Regions from separate parts of the Homo sapiens genome. Here regions 1, 2, 3, 4 and 5 are each linked to region 6. The links come from fine-mapping of genetic effects on gene expression. A gene starts in region 6. Each other region holds a variant in brackets. All regions are shown on one strand. Distances are from middle to middle.

Region 1 (5,077 bases), 21 kb after region 6:
GAGGTTGGGATGAGAAAACAGGATATACATTGTATGAATTCAGGATAGGATGGAAGTGCAAAACTTCAGAAAGAAACAGCCCATCCCTGGGGTCTTATCTACAGGGAAAGGGCAGTCTCATTATTATCTAATGTAAAATGCAGAAGGCATCACATGCCCAGAAACACCTCCTCATCAGCCTACCATGACTCTTACTGGTTCATCACTGGAACTTTCCTTTGGCCCCTGGGATGATAACATATAAAATTACTATAATGTTTGCTGCCCAGATAGCTTTAAGACTGTTTTCTGTACAGAAACTCCAAACAAGTCTGTGCATTGGATGTAAAATAGAGACTATACTGCAGGAGGAGAAGGACATCAGTAAAGAATGAAAGCACAGCAACCTACCAGTGTCTCCTGGGAGCTGTAAAGACTTGTGTAGGGGGACAGGAACACTAGCCAGGAAGGCCAAATGACTCTATCCTTTTTAGGACAGAGGGGCTCTTGCCTAAACATCAGTCATGGGTCAGAAGTTCATAGGGTTAAGGCCAGTTACTCTCTGGCATATCTGTCCCTATTCCAGAACTGTGTTAGGTAATCTTGAGGCCCCAAGAAGTGCAGAATTTATGGGGTCCAGCTAGCCTGTCATAGTCACAAAAAGAAACAGAGGGGACTGAGTTTTAGGTTCAGAGGGGCAACACAGGTGATTTTCATTTTCCCTTCTAATTTGCTCTTTGCTTCTCTGTTTCTTGTCCAGCCACACTACTGGCCGCCAATGGCAAACTCTTCTCCAGGTAAGTGTTAGGTTCAGCCAGGGTGAATGATGTCTCCTTTAAGAATCAGTGAATTGGGGTAGGTCAAAGAGATTAAAATAAAGAGCTAAAGATTCACATTAGAGAGTGAGACTTTCCAACGAACAAGCACTGCATAGACTACTGTTCAGGGGGTGAATAAGTCCAGCAGGGATTCCTCGAAGCCAGGGTGCAGACTGGAAACAAGATTTGTATGACATCAGCTTTGATCTCTGCAGGAGTTTCCTCGAGACAGCCAGGCCTTGCCAGCTACTTGATCTTGGCTGTAGTTTGGCTTCCAGCAGCATGACTGGGGGGACCAACAAGACTAGTTCAAGGTAGGTACTGAAGTTTGGCAGGGTGGAAGGGTGGAGAAGATGAGAAGCATAGGAGAATGGAACCAAGAGCCATTGCCTGTTTTTTCTGGGATATCTTACTGGAGCTTTTATGCACTTTTACTGCATACTTGAAAAATGTGACCATATTTGTTTCAAGAATTGTGAAAGACACAGAGGAGTCTTCTCAGAGCTGAATACTATGTGTAAAATACAGGTGTCTCCTCCCACTGAAACTTGTACCCCAGGAGGTATAGTACTGGTACCATCACAGTTCCAAGACTCAGAGTAGGTGCTCAGTAAACAATGTATTGATTAATTGACTAATTTGTTGACTGAATGAAGCAATAAAATATTAATTCATTCGGACAGGCAGGCCAGGCAATGACTGTATGGAATTTGAAAAAGATGAAGCAGCACTATTCACAATAGCAAAGACATGGAATCAACCCAGCTGCCCATCAGTGATAGACTGGATAAAGAAAATGTGGTTCATATACACGAATACTAGGCAGCCATTAAAAGGAACGCGTTCGTGTCCTTTGCAGGGACATGGATAGAGCTGGAAGCCGTTATCCTCAGCAAACTAACACAGGAACAGAAAACCAAACACCACATGTTTTCACGTCTAAGTGGGAGCTGAACAATGAGAACACATGGACACAGGGAGGGGAACAACACACACTGGGACCTGTCAGGGGATGGGGTGAGAGGAGGGAGACCATTGGGAAAAATAGCTAATGCATGCTGGGCTTAATACCTAGGTGATGGGTTGATAGGTGCAGCAAACCACCCTAGCACACGTTTACCTATGTAACAAACCTGCACTTCCTGCACATGTACCCCAGAACTTAAAACAAAAATGAAAATAAAAAAAGAAAAGATGAAGCGGACAAATAGCTTGATCCCAGGAGCTGAATGATTTCATAGGGTGGACAAAATATACACACAAATAACTCTTTGAAAAAGATGAAAAGTCAGGAAAACTAGTATGATATAATGAAAAGTATCTGAAATTTGAAGTCAAAATTTGAATTTGAGACCTGGTTCTGAGACTTAAATTTTGTCACATGACCAAATTTAGTAATTTATCCTCACTGAGCCTTAGTCCTAGTTCATACCCTAGTTCAATTTAATCAGAATGTCTGAAGATGGGATTCAAATATATGCATTTTTAAAGCCTGCAAAGGTGACCCTAACATGTAGCCATGGTTGAGAAGCACTGATCCAGTTTTACGCCCACAATTCACAGATAGGGAAACTTAGGACCATGGAGATAAAAGCTGGCAAGGACAAGAGTAGATCCAGGGATTCCGACCGTCCAGCTATTAGCTAAACAAGATGGTCCCTATTTGATCAAAAAGCCCAGCATACTTTCTGAAGAGAGTGATAGTGATTATTCAAAGCCTCAAATAATAACAGCTTCCCTTAGCCTCACTGTCTGAAACACAATTACTAAGCTCTAGTGTCACCCAAGTTGGTGGAACTCCGATTTAGACATAAATCCAGGTTGATACCATAAAGAGAGAGTGCGTGCACGGGATCTTCTGTGACACAGGACTTCTGTACTGAAAATAGTGCTAGAAAGGAGCATACCTCTCAAAATCAGGTTTTGGATG[T/G]GCTTATTGATTACTTTTTGCCCTAAGATCAAGAATAAAAATGTTTACCTTCAGGGGTTCTATGTTTCTTACATATTCATTGCTTAGTTGTCCCACGCAACAACCACTGGGGCAAGTCGGATGGCAAATTTGGGAACTGAGCACTTAATGATGCAACTGTGAAATTTATTTGTATCTATGCTGCTCTTATTTTTCAAAATCCTTTTATATTTACTTAAATTTTTATTCGTCTGCAATAAGTTGTTCAAAGTACTGTACTAAAATTTTATTCAGTTTTTATAACTAGGGTTGGATTGTAGTTTCCATGTTTCCAACAGATAATTTAGGTTCAGAGAAGTGAAAGCTTTTCTCAAAGTCACAGTGAAAAGTAGAGAAATGGACAGAAAAGAATTTCAGTCTTCTGACACTTTTATTAGATATTCTGATATTCTGAATTACCATGTGTCTCAAAGTTGTCCCTTATTTACCCAAACTCCCTCATTTCAGCATCTCAGAAATTCTGGACAAAGTGCAAGAAGATGCAGAAGATGTCCTCTTCAGTCTGGGCTTTGGCCAAGAGGATCACAAAGACACTTCTCGGATACCCGCCCGATTTTTCACCACCCCCTCTCAGGCCAAGGGCATTGATTTCCAGCTCTTCCTGAAGTCCCAGGTGCGGAGGATTGAAATGGAAGACCCCTGCCTCATGCTGGCCAGTGAGTGTCCCTCCCAGGCACCTGCTCTACTTCCCTTTTCCTTTAGATTTTCACAGCAGGGCTCAGTGGCTTCAAATCCTGCTTTCTCTTGGTTATCTTTAACCCTTTGCCTATTGTGTCTATTTCCTCTTATGTTGTCTTCAGTGAAGATGGAGAACTCTGTCTGATTCTTTCTCTTAAAGAAATAGCCTTTAAGAGACTTCAGGCCACTACTGCTTCCTTTAGGCCTTCTTGCCTTTCAGTCAATCATATCAGCATGATGTCTATAAATCTTATCCCTCTTTTTTGTTTCCCAGTTGGAATATCTACATGGGATGGGGTGTCAAGAAGTTACGAAATTCCAGAAAAAGAGTGTTAGAAATCTAAAAGGGAGAAACACTAGTAGGAAAATTGGAAGCTTCTCCCTGAATTTTGAGCTTTGGGGAGCCTCCTGAAGGGAGAGATTTAAGAAGATTTGCTGATGAACCCCAGACTTACCATCTTTAACTCTTGTACCCAGGCAGGTTTAAGCAGGTGCAAACACTGGCTGTCACTGCTGATGCCTTCTTCTGTCTCTACTCCTATGTGTCTAAGACACCTGTCCAAAAGTTCACACCATCCCACATGTTCTGGAATTGCAACCATCCAACTGATGTGCCATCCATCAGGATTCTGTCCCGAGAGCCTGAACCCCAGTCACCCAGAGACCGCCTTCGGAAAGCCATCTCCAAGATGTGTCTGTACACATGCCCCCGAGACCGGCCACCACCACCCCACAACACCCCCAAAAGGAACAGTTTGGACCAAGTTGTGTTGGAAGTGATGGACAAAGTGAAAGAAGAGAAGCAGTTCCTCCAGCAAGACTCTGATTTGGGGCAATTCTCACAGGAAGATCCTGTGCCCCCTGCTGAGGGTAAGAAGTTGCCCACTTCTCCCTATCCATGTGTCTTCTGCTGTGAAGAGGAAACACAGCAGAGGATGTCCACAGTGCTAGCACCATCCCAAACTCTGGATTCGAACCCCAAGGTACCCTGTTGCACACATTCTCTGCCCATAGAAGATCCACAGTGGAGCACAGACCCAGCTCAGATAAGGAGAGAGCTGTGTAGTCTACCAGCCACCAATACGGAAACCCATCCAGCCAAGGATGAGACTTTCTGGAAAAGAAAGAGCAGAGCAAGAAAGAGCCTCTTCCAGAAGAATCTCATGGGCAGGAAGGTTAAGTCCTTGGACCTGTCCATCACCCAGCAGAAATGGAAGCAGAGTGTAGACAGACCAGAACTGCGTCGGTCTTTAAGCCAGCAGCCACAGGACACTTTTGACTTGGAGGAGGTAAGTGGGTTGGAGGTGAGGGAGAGACTGGCAGAGAAAGGCTGTAGATTCTTTCCCAGAAGATGAAGGGTTAGAACCCTTGGGGGAAAAATAATCCAGGCTTCCTGTCCTAGCCAGATATACCACTTTCTGATTTCAATTCAGGGTTAATATACAGGGAGAAAGAGACAGAGGCCTGGTTTCCTAAGAGCAGTCGAGTTTTCAGAGCTCCTTTGGTAATACCTGATCTGATTGCCATTTAATGTTCCCATTAAGTACACCTCTCATCACCATTTGTTGTGGTCCTCATGAGATTACAAATGGAGAGCAGTTTTACACAAAGCTAACCACTCTTAAATAAAATA
Region 2 (5,077 bases), 41 kb after region 6:
CACATCTCCAGCACACAAGAACTTCAAAACGCCTAAGCCACAGCAGTCAGGCATTTCTTCAGGACCTCCTCCCCCAGTATCTTGTTTCAAGTGCTGGAAATCTGGCCACTAGGCCAAGGAATGCCCACAGCCTGGGATTCCTCCTAAGCTGTGTCCCATATGTGCAGGACCCCACTGGAAATCGGACTGTCCAACTCACCTGGCAGCCACTCCCAGAGCCCCTGGAACTCTGGCCCAAGGCTCTCTGACTGACTCCTTCCCAGATCTTCTTGGCTCAGTGGCTGAAGACTGACACTGCCCACTTGCCTCAGAAGCCTTCTGGACCATCACAGATGCTTTCGGTAACTCTTACAGTGGAGGGTAAGTCCTTCCTCTTCTTAATCAATATGGAGACAACCCACTGCACATTACCTGCTTTTAAAGGGCCTGTTTCCTTTGCCTCCATAACTGTTGTGCGTATTGACAGCCAGGCTTCTAAACCTCTCAAAACTCCCCAACTCTGGTGCCAACTTGGACAATATTCTTTTATGCACTCCTTTTTAGTTATCTCCACCTGCCCAGCTCCCTTATTAGGCCAAGACATTTTAACTAGATTATCTGCTTCCCTGACTAGGCTACAGCCACACCTCATTGCCACCCTTTTCCCCAGTTCAAAGCCTCCTTCAAATCCTCCCCTTGTATCTCCCTACCTTAATCCACAGGTATGGGACACCTCTACTCCCTCCCTGGCAACTGGTCACATACCCATTACTATCCCATTAAAACCTAATAACCCTTATCCCACTCAATGCCAATACCCCATCCCACAGCAAACTTTAAAAGGATTAAAGTTTGTTATCACTTGCCTGTTACAGCATGCCCTTTTAAAGCCTATAAACCCTCTTTACAATTCCCCCATTTTACCTGTCCAGAAACTGGACAAGTCTTACAGGTTACGTCAGGATCTGTGCCTTATCAACCAAATTGTTTTGCGTATCCACCCTGTGGTGTGAAACCTCATATACTCTCCTATCCTCAATACCTCCCTCCACAACCCATTATTCTGTTCTAGGTAAACCTAGCTGACCCCATAGATCCTAAATCCTTTCTCCACTCCCCTATCCATTCCTTAAAAAACAGCTCCCACACTAGCTCTCCCTAACTTATCACTCCCTTTCCACTACACACAGCTGAAGTGCAGGGCTGTGCAGTTGGAGTTCTTACACAAGAGCTGGGACCACGCCCTTTAGCCTTTCTGTCCAAACAACTTGACGTTACTGTTTTAGCCTAGCCCTCATGTCTGCATGTGGCAGGTACCACTGCTTTAATACTTTTAGAGGTCCTCAAAATCACAAACTATGCTCAACTCACTCTCTGCAGTTGTCATAACTTCCAAAATCTATTTTCTTCCTCACATCTGATGCATATACTTTCTTCCCCCCTCCACTACCTCTCAGCAAGCCGAACTCATTGCCTTAACTTGAGCCCTCACTCTTGCAAAAGGAGTACACATCAATATTTATACTGACTCTAAATATGCCGTCCATATCCTGAACCACCATGCTGTTATATGGGCAAAAAGAGGTTTCTTCACTACACAAGGGTCCTCCATCATTAATGCCTCTTTAACAAATAGTCTTCTCAAGGCCGCTATACTTCCAAAGGAAGCTGGAGTCATTCACTGCAAGGGCCATCAAAAGGCATCAGATCCCATCACTCAGGGCAACACTTATGCTGATAAGATAGCTAAAGAAGCAGCTAGCATTCCAATTTCTCTCCCTAACTGCCAGTTTTTCTCCTTCTCATCGGTCACTCCCACCTACTCCCCCACTGAAACTTCCACCTATCAATCTCTTCCCACACAAGGAAAATGGTCCTTAGACCAAGGAAAATATCCCCTTTCAGCCTCACAGGCCCATTCTATTCTTTTGTCATTTCATAGCCTCTTCCATGTAGGTTGCAAACCGCTAGCCCATCTCTTAGAACCTCTCATTTCCTTTCCATCATGGAAATCTATCCTCAAGGAAATCACTTCTTAGTGTTCCATCTGCTATTCTGCTACTCCTCAGGGATTGTTCAGGCCCCCTCCCTTCCCTACACATCAAGCTCAGGGATTTGCCCCTGCCCAGGACTGGCAAATTAATTTTACTCACATGCCCCAAGTCAGGAAACTAAAATACCTTTTGGTCTGGGTAGACACTTTCACTGGATGGGTAGAGGCCTTTCCCACAGGGTCTGAGAAGGCCACCGTGTTCATTTCTTCCCTTCTGTCAGACATAATTCCATGATTTGGCCTTCCCACCTCTATACAGTCCAATAACAGACAGGCCTTTGCTAGTCAAATCACCCAAGCAGTTTCTCAGGCTCTTGGTATTCAGTGGAAACTTCATACCCCTTACCATCCTCAATCTTCAGGAAAAGCAAAACAGACTAATGGTCTTTTAAAGACACACCTCACCAAGCTCAGCCTCCAACTTAAGGACTGGGCAGTACTTTTACAACTTACCCTTCTCAGAATTCGGGCCTGTTCTTGGAATGCTACAGGGTACAGCCCATTTGAGCTCCTGTATGGATGCTCATTTTTATTAGGCCCCAGTCTCATTCCAGACACCAGCCCAACTTGGATTGTGCCCCAAAAACTTGTCATCCCTACTATCTTCTGTCTAGTCATTCTTCTATTCACCATTCCCAACTACTCATAAATGCCCTGCTCTTGTTTACACTGCCGGTTTACACTGTTTCTCCAAGCCATCACAGCTGATATCTCCTGGTGCTATCCCCAAACCACCACTCTTAACTCCCTCTTAAAGTAAATAATCTTTGCTGGCAGGGCACCCTCCAATACTTTCACCCTGATGAAGTCCTATTCTTTACCTTAAACTCACTCTTATTCTCGTTTCTGTTCTTATGCCACCCTCTACCTCTCCCCAGCTATCTCTACCACACTATCAATCTCACTCACTCTCTCCTAGCCATTTCTAATCCTTCTTCAACAAACAATTGCTGACTTTGCATTTCTCTTTCCTCCAAAATCGCCAAGGCCCCGACTTACTGCTAAAAAGGGGGGACTCTGTATATTTTTTAATGAAGTGTTGTTTTTATCTAAATCAATCTGGCCTAGTATA[C/T]GACAACATAAAAACTCAAGGATAGAGCCTAAAAACTTGCCAACCAAGCAAGTAATTATGCTGAACCCCCTTGGGCACTCTCTAATTGGATGTCCTGGGTCTTCCCATTCTTAGTCCTTTAATACCTGTTATTCTTCTCTTATTTGGGCCTTGTGTCTTCTGTTTAGTTTCTCAATTCATCCAAAACCATATCCAGGCCATCACCAATCATTCTATACACAAATGCTCCTTCTAACAACCCCACAATATCACCCCTTAACACAAAATCTTCCTTCAGCTTAATCTCTCCCACTCTAGGTTCCCATGCCACCCCTAATCCTGCTCACAGCAGCCCTGAGAAACATCGCCCATTATCTCTCCATACCACCTCCCCAAAATTTTTGCTGCTCCAACACTTCAACACTATTTTATGTTATTTTTCTTATTAATATAAGAAGATAGGAATGTCAGGCCTCTGAGCCCAAGCTAAGCCATCATGTCACCTGTGACCTGCATGTATACATCCAGATGGCCTGAAGCAAGTGAAGAATCACAAAAGAAGTGAAAATGGCCGGTTTCTGCCTTAACTGATGACATTACCTTGTGAAATTCCTTCTCCTGGCTCAGAAGCTCCCCCACTGAGCACCTTGCGACCCCCGCCCCTGCCCACCAGAGAACAACCCCCTTTGAATGTAATTTTCCACTACCTACCCAAATCCTATAAAACGGCCCCACCCCTATCTCCCTTTGCTGACTCTCTTTTTGGACTCAGCCTGCCTGCACCCAGGTGATTAAAAAGCTTTATTGCTCACACAAAGCCTGTTTGGTGGTCTCTTCACTCAGACCCATGTGACACAAACCATGTTAAGAACCTAAGAGACTAACAGCATCCTTGATCCCATCTCCATGAGGAAATGGGTTGGGGCTGCAGAATGAGGCAATCCCCACATTCAGTTTTGCCAGACACTACTCCTCCACAACTGAAAGTGGACAACTGAAAGGCATCTAGAGTGTGTGTCTATCAGAGATCTCATTTTGGAGGTAGCGGGGGTATGATCAAGATAATCTCCTCTTTTCCCTAGGGGCTTCCTCAGTCTCTAGTCTCAGGCCACACAGACCATGAGGAGTGACAAATGGATCTGCATGGGAAACACCAGGGAGGGAGAAAGAAACAGTATATGCTCCCCTGCTGCCCTACCCTCTCCACCCACCTCAAAGATTCTGAAACAATTGAGTTGGTGAGTGCGAATAGTTTGCAGCAAGTTTTATTATTAGCCCTGAGAACAAAGGCTTCCCTTTCTCCCCTGCTGCCTTAGGTCTCTCCAGAATCTGCCTGGCTCCACCTTCTCCAGTTGGCTACCAGGGAGGACCAGGCTTCTCTGCCAGCCTCCCCAGCCACAAACTGTCCTTAAGTGAAGGGGCAATGGGGCGATGGGAGGAAGGAGTCCACACTCCAAGGGAACTGGCTGGTTGCTGCTTAACAACTGTTCATTGTTTCTAGGCCACTCTGCAGTTCCCTCCTCTCTCCCATGTGAGTGACAGAAGCTGGGTGGATGGCAGAGCTGCTGCATTGTTTAGGAATAATGGATTAGACACATGGCAATTCAGTGGTTTCTTAAGCAGAGCGCAGCACTGCAGTCTCGATAAGGTTGTAGGCTTGTTTACAAGCTGTAAGGCAAATTGTTACACTGTGAACTTAGCAAAGCAGGGGCTAATATTTCCATTCTCAATGGGTAAACTGAGGCTGGAAATTACAGACTACCACAATTCAAAAGGACTAGCCCAGTTGTCTGTTAGTAAAGAAACAAAAAAGGGCCAGAGAGAGCAAAGGAATGTGATCAAGATCGCAGGCGGGCATCCAGGGCTAGAGCTCTGGACCTATGGCCATGAGCAGAAGTGCTTTTTTTTTACTGTTACATGCATTCTCCATGTTGTCCAAGCCTTTCTCCCAATTCCTCACTGTCCCCTTTCAGTGCTGACTTTTCTCAGCCATG
Region 3 (5,077 bases), 190 kb after region 6:
ACCCTTGACTAGTGTGCCATTCAAGCGGAAAATGGAACAGGTGGACTGAGCATTTTCTCCAGTGTTAGCCTCTTGCTTATACCATTGCAGTAAATGAGTAAAGTCTTAACTCTCATTTTTGGCTTCTTGCTTTAATCCACTACCTGAAAGCTCATCTCTCTCTCACCTAGGACCTAACAGGACACAGAAAATAGGAGAAGGTTGCCAGTACCCAGAAGGATACAATTACCCAAATTTGTGCCAGGGCCTCAAGAACCAGCAGAATCCCAATGCTGGGCAAAGTAAACAAACAGTAGCCATGGCTGAAGCCAAGGACATGCTGCTCCTTTCTGAGAACACACAGTGTTTCTGTATTCACAGGACTCGTGAGTGGGAAGATGCAGAAGAACCCTGGGTGCCAGGGCAGATTCTGCAGCAAATCATGGAGCCAGTGAGAATAGGAAATAATAATATGAAAAATTATATTACTGAGTCATTATAAGATACATTTTAGTGTAACACTTTATTTTTATATCAAGTATACACACATCAACTTATTTAATTCTCATAAAATCACTCAATATTATTCTTACCTAGATTTTTAAAATATGGAATTTGAGGCATCAGAGTGGTAACAGGATATGAGGACTTGCTCAAGATAATAAACCTCCTGATCACTGAAACTCAAACACAAACCAGGACTTGAAATTTGTTTCCAATTTAGCATAGCTTTGGGTCTCTTAGGTTAGAATTGAAGCCCCAATCAGGATATCTGGGGTCTCCAGGTCAGGAATACACTTGTCTATTTTCCATCTTCACTCACCTTTAAAGGACATAAAAGTGAAGTTCTTGACTTCTAAGTATGCTGTAATGTAAGAGATAGAAGATGCTTTTCCTTTATCTCTATATTTAATTTTTTATTGTGCACTATTTATCATAGTTTGTACCATATTAATGTTGTTTTAATTTTACTAATTATTTTATAATGCTATTTCTGTTTGATGCCAAATTGTTAACACTTCAATATTTATAAACTAATGAAATACAAATTTATGTTTTTGCCTATTATGTTTTAGAGAAATGTGGTAGGATAATGCAAATATTTCCCAAGTTCAGATATTTGAAAGTCCTCTCTAAACCCCACAGGGAATACTAAGATATTTAAAGGCAAAGGATATGGTGCAGCAAGAGAAAGAGCGTATAAACGAGCATTGGAGTCCGAGAGACAATCGTGCAGAAGTTCCCAGGGTTCTCATTGACCCAGAGAGGTACTCTGTTTCCAGATGAACCACCAAGATCTGTGCAAGAAATCCTAGCTTCAGGAAAGTGTAACACAGAAGTTCCCAGCGGGGTTGTTATGCCCCATTGGGCACATATTTGAGCCAGTTTATGACACTTGTAAATTATCAACAAACAAACTGGCCTGGGGAGTTTCTGACATCATAAATCCCACTGCCCTTATTTTGACCAAGAGCCAAAGGCAGACATCCAGGAGCCTCCAGAGATAAAGTTAGAGTTTTTTCGATTCAGCTGTAAGTCAACTAAATCCCCTATAGTTCACCCTCTGACTCTTGGGCAAGGCTTTTTAAATAAAAATTGCTCCTCATCACTCCTCCTTCTGCATCTTTGGCAACATTTAGGAGACAAAAAAAAAAGCAAAGGAATAACTGCCAAAACTCTAATTAATTTGTATCATCAGATAAGGTTTAAGTAAATCAGTAAAATTAATTTTGCCAGTAACCTGAGTATTACACCAGATAGTTGTATTATAAGTTGAACGAAGATTATAATATAAATCAGTAATCTTACCAATGACACCAATATTACACCAAAGAGTAGTTATATTATGAGTTCAACTAAGATCACTGTAAAATAAATCAGTCCAAATTACAACAGTATTTTCTCAGCCTTCCCTATAGAGTGGCCCTTGTCGATATACCAAACGCTATCATGGATTGGTGTATGAATCAAGGGCTAAGTTCAAGTTAATTTTGGATTCCAAGTTTCTTATGGGCCTCATCATATACCCTGTTTCATTCTGTCTTTCCCAAGATAACATCATATGGGTAATAATCACCTCCAATTACATTTTAGTTTCAGCGTGCCAAACAACTTCCCGTAAGCATGTTCAGCAGATGTTATGGTTACGCACTGTGTGAATGAGCCCCCAAGAAGTAACCTCTAAACTGTCTGTCTTAGTCACCTCAGGATACCACAACAAAATGCCATAGACTAGGTGACTTAAACAACAGAAGTTTATTTTCTCATAATTCTGGAGGCTGGAAGCTCAATATTGGAATGCCAGCATGGTGGGGTTCTAGTGAGGGCTCTTATCCTGGCTTGTAGACTACCACCTTCTTCCTGTGTCTTCACATAATGGAGAGAGAAAGCAAACTCTCTGCTGTCTCTTTTTACAAGCGTCCTAATCCGATCACAAGGACCCCATACTAGGACCTCATCTAGACCTAATTAACTCCCAAAAGTCCTATTTCTAAGTACCATTACATTGGGTGATGGGTTCATTCAACAATGAATTTTGGGGGACGCAACTAAGTCCATAGCATTGGCATTAGTTCCTGTTTCTTTTTTTTTTTTTTTTT[TTTA/A]ATTTTTTTTTTTAATTATACTCTAAGTTTTAGGGTACATGTGCACATTGTGCAGGTTAGTTACATATGTATACATGTGCCATGCTGGTGCGCTGCACCCACTAACGTGTCATCTAGCATTAGGTATATCTCCCAATGCTACCCCTTCCCCCTCCCCCGACCCCACCACAGTCCCCAGAGTGTGATATTCCCCTTCCTGTGTCCATGTGATCTCATTGTTCAATTCCCACCTATGAGTGAGAATATGCGGTGTTTGGTTTTTTGTTCTTGCGATAGTTTACTGAGAATGATGGTTTCCAATTTCATCCATGTCCCTACAAAGGACATGAACTCATCATTTTTTATGGCTGCATAGTATTCCATGGTGTATATGTGCCACATTTTCTTAATCCAGTCTATCATTGTTGGACATTTGGGTTGGTTCCAAGTCTTTGCTATTGTGAATAGTGCCGCAATAAACATACGTGTGCATGTGTCTTTATAGCAGCATGATTTATAGTCATTTGGGTATATACCCAGTAATGGGATGGCTGGCTCAAATGGTATTTCTAGTTCTAGATCCCTGAGGAATCGCCACACTGACTTCCACAATGGTTGAACTAGTTTACAGTCCCACCAACAGTGTAAAAGTGTTCCTATTTCTCCACATCCTCTCCAGCACCTGTTGTTTCCTGACTTTTTAATGATTGCCATTCTAACTGGTGTGAGATGATATCTCATAGTGGTTTTGATTTGCATTTCTCTGATGGCCAGTGATGATGAGCATTTCTTCATGTGTTTTTTGGCTGCATAAATGTCTTCTTTTGAGAAGTGTCTGTTCATGTCCTTCGCCCACTTTTTGATGGGGTTGTTTGTTTTTTTCTTGTAAATTTGTTTGAGTTCATTGTAGATTCTGGATATTAGCCCTTTGTCAGATGAGTAGGTTGTGAAAATTTTCTCCCATGTTGTAGGTTGCCTGTTCACTCTGATGGTAGTTTCTTTTGCTGTGCAGAAGCTCTTTAGTTTAATTAGATCCCATTTGTCAATTTTGGCTTTTGTTGCCATTGCTTTTGGTGTTTTGGACATGAAGTCCTTGCCCACGCCTATGTCCTGAATGGTAATGCCTAGGTTTTCTTCTAGGGTTTTTATGGTTTTAGGTCTAACGTTTAAATCTTTAATCCATCTTGAATTGATTTTTGTATAAGGTGTAAGGAAGGGATCCAGTTTCAGCTTTCTACATATGGCTAGCCAGTTTTCCCAGCACCATTTATTAAATAGGGAATCCTTTCCCCATTGCTTGTTTTTCTCAGGTTTGTCAAAGATCAGATAGTTGTAGATATGCGGCATTATTTCTGAGGGCTCTGTTCTGTTCCATTGATCTATATCTCTGTTTTGGTACCAGTACCATGCTGTTTTGGTTATTGTAGCCTTGTAGTATAGTTTGAAGTCAGGTAGCGTGATGCCTCCAGCTTTGTTCTTTTGGCTTAGGATTGACTTGGCGATGCGGGCTCTTTTTTGGTTCCATATGAACTTTAAAGTAGTTTTTTCCAATTCTGTGAAGAAAGTCATTGGTAGCTTGTTGGGGATGGCATTGAATCTGTAAATTACCTTGGGCAGTATGGCCATTTTCACGATATTGATTCTTCCTACCCATGAGCATGGAATGTTCTTCCATTTGTTTGTCTCCTCTTTTATTTCCTTGAGCAGTGGTTTGTAGTTCTCCTTGAAGAGGTCCTTCACATCACTTGTAAGTTGGATTCCTAGGTATTTTATTCTCTTTGAAGCAATTGTGAATGGGAGTTCACTCATGATTTGGCTCTCTGTTTGTCTGTTGTTGGTGTATAAGAATGCTTGTGATTTTTGTACATTGATTTTGTATCCTGAGACTTTGCTGAAGTTGCTTATCAGCTTAAGGAGATTTTGGGCTGAGATGATGGGGTTTTCTAGATAAACAATCATGTCGTCTGCAAACAGGGACAATTTGACTTCCTCTTTTCCTAATTGAATACCCTTTATTTCCTTCTCCTGCCTGATTGCCCTGGCCAGAACTTCCAACACTATGTTGAATAGGAGCGGTGAGAGAGGGCATCCCTGTCTTGTGCCAGTTTTCAAAGGGAATGCTTCCAGTTTTTGCCCATTCAGTATGATATTGGCTGTGGGTTTGTCATAGATAGCTCTTATTATTTTGAAATACGTCCCATCAATACCTAATTTATTGAGAGTTTTTAGCATGAAGGGTTGTTGAATTTTGTCAAAGGCTTTTTCTGCATCTATTGAGATAATCATGTGGTTTTTGTCTTTGGTTCTGTTTATATGCTGGATTACATTTATTGATTTGCGTATATTGAACCAGCCTTGCATCCCAGGGATGAAGCCCACTTGATCATTGTGGATAAGCTTTTTGATGTGCTGCTGGATTCGGTTTGCCAGTATTTTATTGAGGATTTTTGCATCAATGTTCATCAAGGATATTGGTCTAAAATTCTCTTTTTTGGTTGTGTCTCTGCCTGGCTTTG
Region 4 (5,077 bases), 230 kb after region 6:
CAATTTAAAAATGGGCAAAAATCTGAGTAAACATTCCTCAAAAGAAGACATACAGATGGCCAACAGGTATTTGAAAGAATGTTCAACATCACTAATCATCAGGGAAATGCAAATCAAAACCACAGTAAGATGTCATCTGATCCCAGTTAAGATGGGTTTTAACAAAAAGACAACAAAAAAAATGCAGAGAAAGGGGAACACTTATATACTGTTGGTGGGAATGGAAATTAGTATAGCCACTATGGAAAACAGTATGACGATTCCTCAGAAAACTAAAAATGGAACTACCATGTGATCTAGCAATCCCACTATTGGGTATATGTCCAAAAGAAAGGAAATCAGTATATCAAGGAGAGATCTATATTCCCATGTTTATTGTAGCATTGTTCATAATAGCCAAGATATAGAATCAAGCTAAATGTTCATCAACAGACAAATACATGAAGAATATGTGGTACATATAGACAATAAAATATTATTCAGCCATTTAAAAAAGAATGAAACCCTGTCACTTGCAGTAAAATGACTGTAACTGGAGGTCATTATATTCAGTGAAATAAACCAGGCACAGAAAGACAAATACTTCATATTCTCACTTGTACATGGTGATCTCATGAAGGTAGAGGGTTGACTGCTGGTTGCCAGAGGCTAGGAAGGAAGGATGAGGAGAGATTGGCTAATGGGTACAAAAATACAGTTAAAAGGGATAAGAGGCACTGTTTGATAGTACAATATGGTGACTATAGTTAACTATAATATATTGCACATTTCAAAATAGCTAGGAGAGAAGAATTGGAATGTTCCCAACATAGAGAAGAGATCAATGTTTAAGGTGATGGATATCTCAATTACCCTGATTTGATCATTAAACATTGCATGCATGTATCAAAACATTACACGTACTTCAAAAAATGTATGACTATTACATACCAGTAAAAAAAAAATTCAAAAAAAAGATTTTAGTGTCAAAGTTATGCTATTTTTATAAAATAAGTAGATAGTATTCCCTCTTATATTGTCAAAAAGAGTTGTATATGTTTGGAATTATTTATTCTTGAAATTATTGGTATGACTTATGTGTAAAACCTCCTACTGTAATCTGTTTGCTTGTTTGCTTGCTTTTTATGGAAAGATGTTTAACTACAGATTCCATTTGTTTGTCATAACACCATTGAGGTTTTCTATTTTTGAGTTGGTTTCATTAATTTACATTTTATGAAACTTTGCACATTTCATGTTTTCAAATTCATTACCATGAAATTATTCATGACATCTTCATTGTATTTTTAGTCTCTGCAGCATTTGTGATTATCTCCCCTTCTCCCACTACTAATATAGTTCATCTGTTCATAAGCGATGTCCATCTTTAGTCAGAAGGAATTTCACTGCTGATTCCTTCTCGTTCTCCTAAATCCACAGCACAACAGAGAAAGCCCAGAGCCAGGGAACACACTATAATCTTTGACTTTACAGATACCTAAGCAGCCTTAAGTATTCATTTATTCCTTATTAACCAAACTGTAATGCCTATGAGCCACTTGGACAATCACCCAATTTTAAAGCATCCAATATAAAATATTAGAAAATTTAACAAATTAATCACCAAAATAATCAAGAATAAACAGGACAAATTTTGACAAATCTCCCACATTCTTAGGCAGGGAAACATACATAAAAAGAAAATAATAATGTAACAATTGTAGAATTTTATAGTAGTTTCGTGGCAAATGTTCAAATTGTGAACCTGGATTTGGCATGCCACAACTCAATACATAACATAGTATAATGTACACATTATAATGCATGTATAACCCATAATAGTCACTAAGCATATCTAAACATATCTACCATTCAAATTAAAATAGTTTTCATAAGATATCCCCCCAAAAAGGAATGTATTTCACTAAAATTATATAAGCATGTCCAAATTTGTTATTCACAGGTTCACTGATTTTATTCCT[C/T]AGATTCATAGTATCATTTGCTGGTCTCTGATTGCTGTACAAACTCCTTCCTCACTGTTTCTATTGACAACTGATACCTGACTTATTCTCTAGGAGTGCTGCTCTGAATGATCAAAGCTCAGAACAAGTATGAAGACATGTTTTCAGTGGGTAGAGGCAATGGGGAAATTCTCACTTTGGCTCTTTCTCCTCTAACATTTATAGATTTAAACTGTCATTGTACTAATGTAGTAACTTCTAAAATTCAATCTTGAGCAAGAGCAGAAGGGGGCCATTTAGGCCTGGAGTCAAAGGAGATACTCTGTGGCCCAGCCCAGTGATTCCTAAACATTTACTCACAAGCACCCTAAAAAGATGTGGAAAAACTATATCTCCTCTCGTACATTTTGTAATTGGCATTTAAGATTTTTAAAGAAACTATTTAAGCTTAAATAGTTGCAAGTGATATAACTTCTCGCACATTATAATACTGACATTTTAAATAAAACTGCTACTTCACTCTTTTAAATGTATCCAGCGGAATCTAAATGCCATAGCAATTTGACACCCACCATCAAACATTTTTAAAAGACAAGGTACTTTTAAAGCTAAAAATTTCAGAAGATTCTTTTTTCTTCTTGAACTTGTATTTATATTCTATCCTCCCACAGAATTTTATCCTAATATATATTTGTACTTGAAAGTGTTATTGATTACCTCATCATATTCTTCTGCAATGAACATATGTATATTATTTAAATTTTTCTGTTGCCATAAGTTTCCAAATGCTAAAAATTTACTTCTGATACAATTTTTATTTATTCACTGTTGATCAAAATAGTACATGTAACTTATAAATCCTGACAAATATCAAACATAACATTGGAAATGTATCTCATAGATGGGACTTTCTCCAATTAGTTCATGAAGCTAAGAATGAATGTTACTTAATTATACAGAGTTCAGCATCAAAGCTACTTGTATTTCCTACTTTTATTTGTAAGCACTGACAATATCATTTCAAATAAATCAGTTGACAAAAATAGATAAACGTTTTCAACAATGTAACTCAATTCTTTGAACCCTTTTTAAGTTATATGTTTGAAACATCACATAGACATCTATTACCAAAAAAGTAAAAGTCTATTAGTTGACAAAAAGTTAGACACCACTTGATTTGGAAAATGACTGGTTATTCAGTCGTTAAAGTCATTCACTTTCTTAACACTGGCACCATATTTCAAATATCCCTCTGATGTCTTAGAGATTTTTTTGCATCAGTGTAATGCATCTACACCGTTCTGCATAGGTGAGAAACTTGCTTTTCTTTTTCAAATAGAAGGATAATTGGAAAAGCGAGAAGGGAAAGACACATCAGCAGGATTTCTTGGTTACAGGCTGGTTCTCAGGCAAACAAATTTTAGAAAAGAGTATGTGGAAACTGAGTATCTGGAAATGTATTCCCTTTAAGCTACCAGTAGCAGTATATAGCCAAGGTGTGCATAAGGATTACTGGTATCACAGTTTCCTAGACATCTCTACTTTAGGAACCACGTGCAAGATAATAAGCAGTTCAATCAATCTAATCCAATAACTATTTAATAGCTGGCTACAGGTTGTGAAATAACAGGTTGTAAAAATGTAAAACAAAGAATAAGAAGAACATGATTTGGGCCCTCCCAGAAAGAGGTAGTCGAAAAGCTCTGGAAAGACAAATAGGAGTAGGGACACTAGATGATGAGGATGCGAGGGCTTAAAATACAGCAGATGATGGAGCAAGTACTGGAGGCGTCCACGTGTGCCAGGAAAGTCTGAAAGTGAGGAAGGTGGAAGCTGGTATAGGTGGAAAAAAAAAGATCCTTTGTTTGAATGTGAAATGTGGGATCAGGAGCAGTCTCCCATTAAGAGGTTTTAAAAATATGAGCATCTACAAGAGAGAGACAGACCTCAGTCAAGGAAAGAAAGTAGGGAGGTTGTGCCATTGCACTCTAGCCTAGGCAACAAGAGCAAAACTCCATCTCGGAAAAAAAAAAAAAAAGAAGAAGAAGAAGAAAGTAGGGAGGAAGCAGTTGTTAAAAGGAGTTTGTTAACCACAAACCAAAAAACCTTGCTGCTTTGCTTTTCTTGACTCTTTTGCACATTTATCTTTCTAAGGAGCACTTGCTTAGAAGAAAAATGGCTTGGCCAAGGCAGAATATTCTTTGATTTTTCTGGCATAAAAACCTTCTTGGGAGCTATGGCAGTAATTGTAAATGACATGATGCTGGAAATATCCTTGAGTTCCTTCAAGAGAGAAACAGAATGAGCAGAACAGGTGAGTAAGGCTGTAGGAATGTGATACCATGGTAGTGCCCATAGGTAGCACCAACACTAATGTAGCATCAAGATGCCAGGATTCCCGGAACCACAGGAAGGGAGAAAGTCAGAATTTTAAGCTTCATCTATAGACCCAAAGGGAGAACAAGGAGGCTTCAGTAAATCCCTGGGGTGGGGTAACGATATTAGTGCTTTTGATGCAATTATTTGAAAAATGAAACACTTTATTTCCATCGATAGTTGGATGTGTTTCACCAATAAGCTTTTTTTAATCGACAAATAATGATTGTATATATCTATGGGGTACAGTGTGCTGTTTTGATATATGTATAGATTGTAGAAAGATTAACTCAAGCTGATTAATATATCCATCACCTTCCCTAAATAAGCTTTTGACGTAGGTGCTGAAACTGAAAATGTAACCAGTGCCCAGGGTCTGAGGCAGCTGCAGAGGAAGCCACCCAGATTCCACCCACACCCACCCTCCCCAGAAAGGATTCATGTGGCTGTAATTGGGGAAAAAAAGAAATATTCTTAAAAGCTAATTTCTCTGTAGGATCAGGGTGCAGAATATGCAATTTAGAGACATAACTTTTGTATGGAGATATGAAAATGGGAGGAAAACAAAACCATTCAATAGAGGGCATTTTCTATTACTGGCATTGCATTAAATTGGGCTATACTGCCATCTGCAGGTCACTGTAAAACTGTGCAGTAACGAAACTTAAGACGCTGTATCCAAAAGTAAAATCAGGAAGAATGAACAAGCAGCAGAGATAAACTCCATTGCACTGTGTTCGAATTAACTGATTTCAGTTCTA
Region 5 (5,077 bases), 250 kb after region 6:
AATAATATTATTACTGTTACACACGTCTGTGTGAAGAGACGGCCAAACAGGCTTTGTGTGAGCAATAAAGCTTTTTGATTCCCTGGGTGCAGGCAGACTGAGTCTGAAAAAGGAGTCAGCAAAGGGAGATGGGGTGGGCCAGTTTTATAGGATTTGGGTAGGTAGTGGAAAATTACAGTTAAAGGGGTTTTCTCTTGAGGGTAGGGGTGGGGGTCACAAGGTGCTCGGTGGGGAGCTCCTGAGACTCATTGTCCAGGAGAAGGAATGTCACAAGCTCAATTGATCAGTTAGGGTGGGACAGGAACAAATCACAGTGGTAGAATGTCATCAGTTAAGGCAGGAATTGACTATTTCACTTCTTTTGTGGTTCTTCAGTTGCTTCAGGTCATCTGGATGTATCCGTGCAGGTCACAGGGGTTATGATGGCTTAGCTTAGGCTCAGAGGCCTGACAATTACTATAGACTGAAAAACACTTTCAGATGTTGAAGAAAAGTTTGTAAGATTTTTCCAAGCCTATCAATCCTAGATACAAAGTTCTTTTTAGAAAATTTGTCACTGAGTTATATTTTATTGGTGCTAACAAGTATTTCACTTCAGTCTTTTGTACATCAGACACTTGTATAGCAAGGCAGGTTTGTGATAAATTCTTCTTGATCTTCTTCACTTGTGTATGGGCATTGGAGGAGCTTTCCCCTTGCCCTCAGAGGGTTTGCTGAAAAAAATCAATTTACAGTAAGGCAGATTAATAGGACAAAAAGCATACAAATTTATTTAACCATGTGCTCGAGAAGAATCATAGAGTGATTACCCAATTTCCCAACAGGGCCCAGACACTTCTATAACCTCTTTCAGAGGGGAGGGGGAAGATGGGGAATATAGAGGTAATTCTGGTTGAGGGGCATTAAATAATTACTAAGGAAAAATGAATAGGTACTTAGGAGAATGAATGGAAGGTGAGAACAGAAATTGACTTGTAAATGGTTTTCTTTGGAAGTTAAAAGAACCTGAGAGACAGGTATTATTTTGTAAAATGGTTGGTTCTGGTATGGTTATATTCTTCCTCTTCTTTCCTGAAATAGTGAGATAACAGGGAAGGGAAGAAAAGGCAATTGTTCTTGATGGGCCTATCTGATCTTTTTGAAGTTAGGGGATAAGTTTCTTCTGAGGCCTGTTGATTTATAAAGTCTTTTAATTCAAAATATACATTATACCAAGGAGCTTATTCATTCTCCCTGTCTGGAACTCCCCTAGAAGTTTCACACATAAAAAGCTGAGTTAGGCCGGGCGCGGTGGCTCATGCCTATAATCCCAGCACTTTGGGAGGCCAAGGTAGGTGGATCATGAGGTCAGGAGTTCAAGACCAGCCTGGCCAAGATGGTGAAACCCCGTCTCTACTAAAAATACAAAAATTAGCTGGGTATGGATTATAGGCGGGCACCTGTAATTCCAGCTACTTGGAAGGCTGAGGCAGAGAATTGCTTGAACCTGGGAGGCGGAAGTTGCAGTGAGCCAAGATCACACCACTGCACTCCAGCCTGGGTGACAGAGTGAGACTCTGTCTCAAAAAAAAAAAAAAAATCCTAAGTTAGTGGCTCTGGAGAGAGAAGTTGGTTTAGTAGCTGGGTAGTAAGAGATCTGAAAAGGAAGAAAAGAACATAGATTAAAATGAGAAAAGAACATATCTAAGCACACTTCCCCACACCCCATTAAACCAGTCTCCCATTCCCAGGAATAGGTCAGACCAATAGAACAGTTTAGCCTTGTTTACCTGATGGATAATATTTTACCTTGACCTTCAAGAGGTGCAGATCAGTCTCTACTTGCCCTGAGCGGTTTATGTAGAAACAGCATTTGTCACCAATAGCTGCACAAGCTCCTCCCTGTTGGGCTGTCAGCACATTCAGGCTGCAGCAGTTCTAAAGTACAGCAGAAGCTGGACTGTTGACTTCTGACTGGAGTGCTCCCAAGGCTTGGGTAGTGATACTGAAGTCTTGTTCTATTGCCATGGAAAGATTTTAAACTGCCCTTTCATTTTCTTAAGTTCCAAATGCCAGGGGAAAAGTTCTGAGGACTGAAAAGAACATAGATTTGTGATATATAGGTGGGTTTTTTACAAAGTCACATTCATTACCTCTGTGTGGCACCACTTTATGAACAAAAAGGCCCATTTGTAATTTGGCTGCCATTTAAAGTGGAGTACCTAGTAACAGAGGATGTCAGATAACTGAGTCCACAGCACCCTGAGTATCTAGGTGGGAACCACTTGTATATCTTGTTACCACGCAATATTAAAAGGCCGCTGTTATTTACAGATAGGGTCAGGGTGAAGCCTGTGGCGCCTCAGCCTGAAGTTTGCTGTGCCTTGTCTTCTTTGTTATTGGCATTTCCACATCTGCAGCTATCATGTCTCCCTGTCAATCTGTGGGAGCAAAACAGGTTGTGAAATATTTTATATAAAAGACCTTTAGTTTTGGCTGTTATAGGGCTTGGTTTTGTCACCTAGCCAAATCAGTCCAGACTTTGGGTCTATCCATATGTAATCTTTAGTATCTGACAGGTAAGCTACCCCAAGTTGCACACCAGGGCTGGCTTGTGAGCCATCCATAACATCTGGTGATTTGATAAATATTGATTTCATGAGTCAGCATCAGGACCACCTATGGTCTGTGTAAGAAGTGCAAGAATGCCATCTGTGGAATCAAACTATAAGGTCTGATTGCAATATTGCCTAGTATGTCACCTAGCAAGGGTCCAGCATCATTCCTGTTTTCAATGCAGAAGGAAAATTTTCTTTCTAGTAATTTTATCTAAGCAAAAGACAGTTTTGAGCTTCCATGGTGGCTTTTCTGTGTCCAGTTGACTTACCATAAGAGAGGCAATGTGACTTTGTTTCTCTGGTTCTGGATGCCATATCTTGTCATACATCCATCTTCTAGACTGAATCCACCAGGTGCTCATACTGGCAGAAACAAAAATAATTTCAGGTTCTTTTGCATCATCTAGATATTGGCATAACCAAAATTAGACTGACTAATGTTGTCAGGATTTAAAAGACTGGTGCAAAGGGTTTGTGCCCGACCGTCTAGAAAAATAGCAAGAATTAGTAAAAGCAAAGCACAGTTCAAAAGAAGAGTCACAGCGAAAGATCAAAG[G/T]GAGTATGAGAGAGATAAGTTCAGGCAATCTTTAATCACCTTTCAATTAAAAAGTCAAGAAACAATAGATGCTGGTGAGGCTGTGGAGAAATAGGAACGCTTTTACACTGTTGGTGGGAGTGTAAATTAGTTCAACCATTGTGGAAGACGGTGTGGCCATTCCTCAAGGATCTAGAACGAGAAATATCATTTGACCCAGCAATCCTATTATTGGGTATACACCCAAAGAAATATAAATCATTCTACTATAAAGAGACATGCACACGTATGTTTATTGTGGCACTATTTATAATAGTAAAGACACAGAACCCACCCAAATGCCGATTGATGATAGACTGGATAAAGAAAATGTGGCACATATACATCACGGAATACTATGCATCCATAAAAAGGAATGAGATCATGTCCTTTGCAGGGACATGGGTGGAGCTGGAAGCCATCATCCTCAGCAAACTAATACAGGAACAGAAAATCAAATACCACATGTTCTCACTCATAAATGGGAGTTGAAAGATGAGATCACATGGACACAGGGAGGGGAAAAACACATGCCGGGTCCTGTCGGGGGGTGGGGGACAAGGGGAGGGAGAGCATTAGGACAAATACCTAATGCATGCAGGGTTTAAAACCTAGATGATGGGTTGATAGGCGCAGCAAACCACCATGGCACATGTATACCTATGTAACAAACCTGCACGTTCTGCACATGTATCCCAGAACGTAAAGTAAAATTTTTAATAAAAATCCCCATGGTGTTCATTCAGCCCAAGAAGAGAAGGTTTAGAGGTGTCAGTAGGTAAGGAGTGACTGAACACTATTTTAAAAGGGGCTAATCCCTGTCTCCTATTTGAAGTGTTAGAGATTTTTATAAGGGCCAGAGATAATGCTTCTGGCCATTTAAGTCCACTATCTTGACAAAATTTTCCCAAAATTCTTTTTCTGTCTAAATTTTTAGGTTCCACTTGCCCTGAGGATTGGGGATGATGTGGGGTATAAAATTTTAATGAGTACCCCAGAGCCTCTGCAAGCAAGTGGTTTATTTCTGCTGTGAAATAAGTCCATGGGTCTGACCCAATCCATAAGGGAATAGCAAAATGAGGAATAATCTGCTACTTATTTATTTACCACAGCTGTAACATCAGCACACCTAGTTGGATAACATCAGTCCACCCACTGAACATGCAGAAAAATAATGGAGCAGTGAGAAAAGCACAAAGCTGGAGGTAAATCCATAAAGTCTATTTGGAGCGCGGCAAGGGGCAACATGGGCCTTTGGGGGCTTCCTGAGGAATATTGGTTTCCTCTAGAGATTTGGTGATATTTATAAATAGTGCACTGGGAAATAATTTGGCCATAAATTTTATAGTTCCCAGGGCAGTACCAACTATCTTTTAATTTATTAATTATTCCCCATTTGCATATACATCCCATCTGATGGGAGATAAGTGCAAGGCAAAGAGTTAAAAGGAAAGGGGCTATGGGGGTCTATTTGGCCCAGTATACAACCCATCTGATAATTGTTTGGCACCCTTTAATATCCATTTATCCTTTTTCACATTGTGAGGCACTAGCCTGATAATCAATAATGTTAGACAGGGATAAGGGCAGATTAATAAATTGAGTATAAAAAGGATAGGGAGGGCCATTTGGCCACAGATTTAGCAGCCCTGTCTGTTCAATCATTTCCTTGGGGTACAGTATCCATATCCTTGGTATAAGCTGGGTAATGAACAACAGCAATCTTAGTGGGAAGGTGGATAGCCTATAATAGGCCAGCAGTTATAGGCCCATTGGCAATAGAAGTGCCAGCAGAGGTTAAGAAACTACAGGATTTCCAAATTGTACCAAGTGTACGACAGTTTCCAAAGGCATATTTGGAGTCTGCATAAATAGTGGCAGTTTTTTGGTTTTGGTTTTTGTTTGT
Region 6 (5,077 bases):
ACTGAGAAAGAAGATAAACAGAGGAATACCCTGGGCCGCCTCCTCCTCCTAGGAATCATATAGTCTTCATCTTTGTCTTTCAGAAGCTGCTTGTAGAAGAGAAAAATATTTCTTTCAAAAAATAAATCACAAATACTATAAACATATAAACCTACATATGTACTCATAAAAATTAAGAATAAATATAAATAAAAACCAAAAATTAATACATCTTTTTTATTAACAAAAAAATCTCTAGCAATTGCTTGTGAAATGGTATCTTTAATGAGTGAGGTAATTTTGACAGATAGACATAGTATTCTGCAGAAACTGAAAATATTATATTTCATGCAAATCAAAACCACAATGAGATACCATCTCACACTACTCAGAATGGCTATTATTAAAAAGTCAAAAAATAAAAGATGTTGGCGAGGTGGCAGAGGAAAAGGAATGTTTATACACTGTTGGCGGGAGTGTAAATTAGTTCAACCCTTGTGGAAGACAATGTGGCGATTGCTCAAAGACCTAAAAACAGAAATATCTTTAGACTCAGCAATCCCATTACCGAGTATATACCTGGAGGAATATAAATCATTCTGTTATAAAGACACGAGCACATGTATGTTTGCTGCAACACTATTCACAATAGCAAAGACATGGAATCAACCCAAATGCCCAGTGATGATAGACTGGATAAAGAAAATGTGGCACATATACACCATGGAATACTATGCAGCCATAAAAAAGAATGAGATCATGTCCTTTGCAGCAACATGGATGGAGCTGGAGGCCATTATCCTTAGCAAACTAACACAGGAACAGAAAACCAAATACCGCATGTTCTCACCTATAAGTGGGAGCTAAATGATGAGAACACATGGACACATAGAGGGAAACAACACACACTGGGGCCTATGGGAGGGTAGAGGGTGGAAGGAGGGAGAGGATCAAAACAAATACCTATTGGGTACTAGGCTTAATACCTGGGTGATGAAATAATCTGTACAACAAACCCCTATGACAGGAGTTTACCTATGTAACAAACTTGCACATGTACCACTGAACTTAAAATAAAAGTTAAAAGAAACTATTATATTTCAAGAGTCTTAAAAATAGCTGCAATTTCTTGAGCATTTGCTGTAAGGTAGGCGCTGGACTGAATACTCTGTATTCCTTTATTCTTATAGCTCTACAACCACTCCTGTAAGGTTATCCCCATTTAGCAGCTAACAAACTGAGACCTAGAGATGTTAACGTATCCAAGACTACAGAGCTACTTGATGCCAGAGCTTCACTCTAAAGCCTGCTCTCCTAACCATCAAACTATCAATGTTAACAAAATGTTGACATTTGGGCCAGGACAATTATTCCTTATACTGAAGAGTCCCATCCCTTCAAAAGCACTTATCATCATTGGCCCTCAGGTACTAAATACCAGTATCAGCTTCCCATTTCTTTGAAAATTAAATCTCTCTCACATATTTCCAAACTCCCTACCGAAGTTATATTCTCCATTTCCCAAACATATTGGAAAACAACTGTTAAGGAAAACATTGAATTCTAGAAACTTAGGATTTAAAAGAGTTGTTAAGTTTCCATTAGTTCAGCTTTTATAGTTAATTTGTACGGAAAAGAATAGTAAATAAAGAGAATTAGGGCGTGTTGGATTTAGCATTTTACTTGTTGACTGTGAAGCTAATTCTCAGAGAAGCACATATTTAGCATCTACTATGTCCTGAGAAAATATGTTAGATATTTTCATGCCTACGTAAAAGGAATAGCGTGGGAGAAGGGTTGAGTGAGAAACAGAGAGAATTGTTATTTTCCTCACATTATACTTGAAGAAAATAATGTTTTGAGAACTTAATTTGCCAAGCAAGAATTTTATTTAGGATTATTTCTACCATATTATAGCTATACTATGGATACTCAATGGAGTTGTCCCATTGATGATTGGAAATGGAATTTAGAAACATGGTAAAAAAAAAATCTAACTATACCTATAGCCAAAAAATCAGAAAGAAGGTAATGAACATGTGAAAATCAGTCACAATTAACACATTAGAGGAGTGCCTTGTAGAATAAATATTGTGATATACATTCATAAATAAATGATTTAAAGAAGGAAACAGTAGAATCAGGAGAGAGACAGAAAGAAGATATCCAAAATGCAGCAGCATCCTACGGAGAAGAGTGTTCAGAGATACTGGAGAAGCGAGGAGGGATAGTTAGCAGTGCTGGATGCTCCCGGTGGGTGAAAGTGATTGAGGCCTGGGAGAAACCTTTTAGAGTTCAACAAGCCTTTTCCAAACTGAAAACCAATAAACTGAAGACATCTTCAGGGTGTAACCGATTTTAAAAGTTCAGCTTTGAAAACGTTGGGGAAAGCAGTCATTTACTACAAAAACAAAAACTTTGAAGTGGTTTGAACATAAAACAAAGTTAAGAAACTAACAGAAAAAAAAAGTAGTCAGTATTCAAAAACAAGCTTCGGGGGAATTTACCAGAGTATGAAAGTTATCAACACAGAGCGACTGGCTCAGAGCCCTCTCAAGTGTGTGATACGACTGGAAACTTCTTCTCTGAGATAAACGCCAGATCATTTATGAGAGAGAGCTTTCCCATTTTCAGACAGCTCTCCTGAGGACAGAAGGATTTATCTGCAGCAGTGGAATTCTAGTTATATGGTAGGAAGACTCCTGCACACACCTCTTTAAATGGACTGTACCTTTGCCTTAATAGGAAAAGATCTCCTGTTTTTCTGGAAAGACAGAGGCAGCTCTGGGGCAGGAAGGTCTTCCTAGTTGTGAGCACCGTGTCTACGGATGGTTTGTCCTTCGCTCAGTCTCCTGAGCCGGAGCAAAGGATGTGGCTGGGCCAGGAGGCGGGGACTGCATCTACATGTGTGGATGTGTGTGTGTGTGGTGTGTTCTCATTTCCGCTTCCCCTTTTGAGCAGGCAACAGCAGTTGAATGAGTTCAGGGAGAAAGGCATAATCTACAACATGATACTTTCTCACTTGCTTCACCTCTGTGCCCACACCTGTGAAGGCCTCGGCCCAGCTTCGACAACTGCTTTGCCTCAAACTCAGCTTTCTACCAGCAGACAGGTAAGCACAGCCTTTATCTCAGTTTCAAGGCTGTACTGATTTAGGGTGATGCTAGGAGAAAGAAGGAAACATGTCAGAGAAAAATCAGGCTGTCAAGTCAAGGGAAAATCAAGAGAAAATCTCCCACCACTCTTACTTCAACCTTAAAAGCATCCATCATTATGCCTAGGAGAACGATGCTGGGTGCCCTTTTGCTTTCGTTTGTTTGTTTTCTCTTTATTATCAGAGAGGTAATCTTTCTAGATTCTCAAAACTTGGGTCTCTTTGATGACTTGAATAACATTTTAGGAATTTTTTTTCACCTTTCTCACCTGCAAAGTTCTTCTCTGTGTCTTGCTGAACTCATTGTTGCTGCAATTTCCATCTGATTATAACATCGAAAAGTTCTCAAGGAAGAAGTTTCCCGGTTTCATTTCAGGCCCTACTCTAGTGTCCATAGCTCCAACCATTGAGAGTACCTGGCTGAAATCAACTTTGCTTTCTGTGGGTATGACCTCTTTCTTCAGAAGCTGTAGAAGAAACTTGTTGAGATAAACTGCAGCAAGATATATTGAGGTCAGCTACGAGGGAGGATGTACACACTTGAGTGAGGTAAGGTCAAATTCACCGGGAGGCTCAAGATAGATGGATAGCCACCATCAGGACCAGATTTCAGGGTTCACATCTCAAAGATAGATAGATGGATGTGTTGCCTTCTCAGTGACCTACATAATATTGGGGGCTTCATGCTCCTCCAACACCCCTTGCCCCAGTGGTAGCAGGCAGAGCATATCACCACCTACATGAGTTTTGGGGTAGATGGAGGAGTGGAAAGATCCTCCACCCTGGGGTTTTCCCATGCCCCTTCTGTGCCACTAAGCTCACCAGTGGGTGGAAGAAAAAGGGTGGGTCCCCAGGGCAGGGCAAGGACAAGAAAGGAGAGTTCCACAGAAGTGATTTGACAAGACTGTGAGCATTTACAGGAGATATCCAGGGAAGTACTAGTGACTCTGTATACCACAAATGGTCCTGAGTAGAGAGGTAAGGAGACTTTCTAGATGGTGCAGGGCAGTACCTAGGATGGGAGGTTGGAGGTAGGAACCTTCAACTTGTGTGTCCAAGTATCAGACTCAATAGTTGTTCAGCTGAGTGATTAGAGATAAAGATCTCACAATATTGTCTTGCAGCATGAAGTGTTAGTAGGAAGAAGGGAAGTCAGGTTTATTGTCTGTCTCTACTTGGACTATTATCAGAAATAACAAGCTGAAGATATAGCAGAAGGGATAGAAAGCAATTTAACATCTGAGTTATTCGCATGCACCCCAGGGTGTTTAGAAACCATTTACAACCACGCTACCAACATGTTCTCATAACTCTTGGGTTTTTTGAAAATTAAGATGGAACCCTGCGATTCAGCATTATGTAGTGAACATGAAGCCCCAACCGTCATTTTCAGTTCAATGTTTGATTTGGATTCTAGTATGGAGGTCTCGTCTCAGCCAATGCTGTGACTTACAAGATTCCTTCTGGGCTACAGTAAGGGGAAAAGATCACACGTTTATTTCCACCTGCAAACTGACAACTGTTCTCTTTTCCACCTAAGGCACAAGACCAAAGTGGATATTCCAGTACCCACAGTACTGTGTGCCTTACAACACCCAGGCCTGATGCAGAATGGCCTAAACACAGATTTCAGATTGAGAAAAGAGTTCAGTCAAATAAGTAGAGGGACGAGGAGAAGAGAGTGTGTAGATATTGAAAAAGAAAAGCAGGAAAGAAGAAAAATGAATATATGCAGGACAGAGCTTATTACCAAGGAAATGAAACTGAAGAATTAAAGATACGAATTCACAGAGCTAACACAATGGTTGAGAAATCTGCTCATTCTCCCTACTTTCTCTTGATGAAGCCATCTATAAATCAGCTCAGATAAACTGCTGTTTCTTATTCTTGATGTCTTTATTGCCCATTCAAATGAAGATATTTGATGTCTCCCTACATTGAGAA

Which allele goes with the higher level. Positions count from the first base shown, and alleles are read on the strand shown. Sizes are in standard deviations (SD) of each study's normalised expression. Not every link is listed here.
For the expression in prefrontal cortex of the gene that starts at base 2,914 in region 6, allele TTTA in region 3 goes with a higher level than allele A (small effect, 0.34 SD a copy in CommonMind).

Evidence for each region. PIP is the estimated chance that this variant, and not a neighbour inherited with it, causes the effect.
Region 1: its variant is fine-mapped to the expression of TESPA1 in whole blood (TOPMed, PIP above 0.99).
Region 2: its variant is fine-mapped to the expression of TESPA1 in whole blood (TOPMed, PIP above 0.99).
Region 3: its variant is fine-mapped to the expression of TESPA1 in prefrontal cortex (CommonMind, PIP 0.95).
Region 4: its variant is fine-mapped to the expression of TESPA1 in whole blood (INTERVAL, PIP above 0.99).
Region 5: its variant is fine-mapped to the expression of TESPA1 in whole blood (INTERVAL, PIP 0.94).

What each region holds. Positions count from the first base shown.
Region 1 is chr12:54,962,087-54,967,163 of GRCh38, reverse strand. TESPA1 (thymocyte expressed, positive selection associated 1) reads left to right here. Exons shown (of 11, transcript NM_001136030.3): 6 at 740-776; 7 at 1,013-1,111; 8 at 3,214-3,422; 9 at 3,922-4,733. Among named protein-coding and RNA genes, the nearest start is that of TESPA1, 20 kb to the left of the region's middle. The variant T/G (reference allele first, on the strand shown) is at 2,728.
Region 2 is chr12:54,941,399-54,946,475 of GRCh38, reverse strand. It overlaps the pseudogene LOC105369778. Among named protein-coding and RNA genes, the nearest start is that of TESPA1, 41 kb to the left of the region's middle. The variant C/T (reference allele first, on the strand shown) is at 3,105.
Region 3 is chr12:54,792,109-54,797,185 of GRCh38, reverse strand. No RefSeq gene overlaps it. Among named protein-coding and RNA genes, the nearest start is that of MUCL1, 60 kb to the left of the region's middle. The variant TTTA/A (reference allele first, on the strand shown) is at 2,580.
Region 4 is chr12:54,749,258-54,754,334 of GRCh38, reverse strand. No RefSeq gene overlaps it. Among named protein-coding and RNA genes, the nearest start is that of MUCL1, 100 kb to the left of the region's middle. The variant C/T (reference allele first, on the strand shown) is at 1,962.
Region 5 is chr12:54,731,578-54,736,654 of GRCh38, reverse strand. No RefSeq gene overlaps it. Among named protein-coding and RNA genes, the nearest start is that of DCD, 86 kb to the right of the region's middle. The variant G/T (reference allele first, on the strand shown) is at 3,154.
Region 6 is chr12:54,982,599-54,987,675 of GRCh38, reverse strand. TESPA1 (thymocyte expressed, positive selection associated 1) reads left to right here and starts at 2,914. Exons shown (of 11, transcript NM_001136030.3): 1 at 2,914-3,091. It overlaps LOC107984515 (a long non-coding RNA gene), which reads right to left and starts at 2,825. Exons shown (of 2, transcript XR_001749161.2): 1 at 2,711-2,825.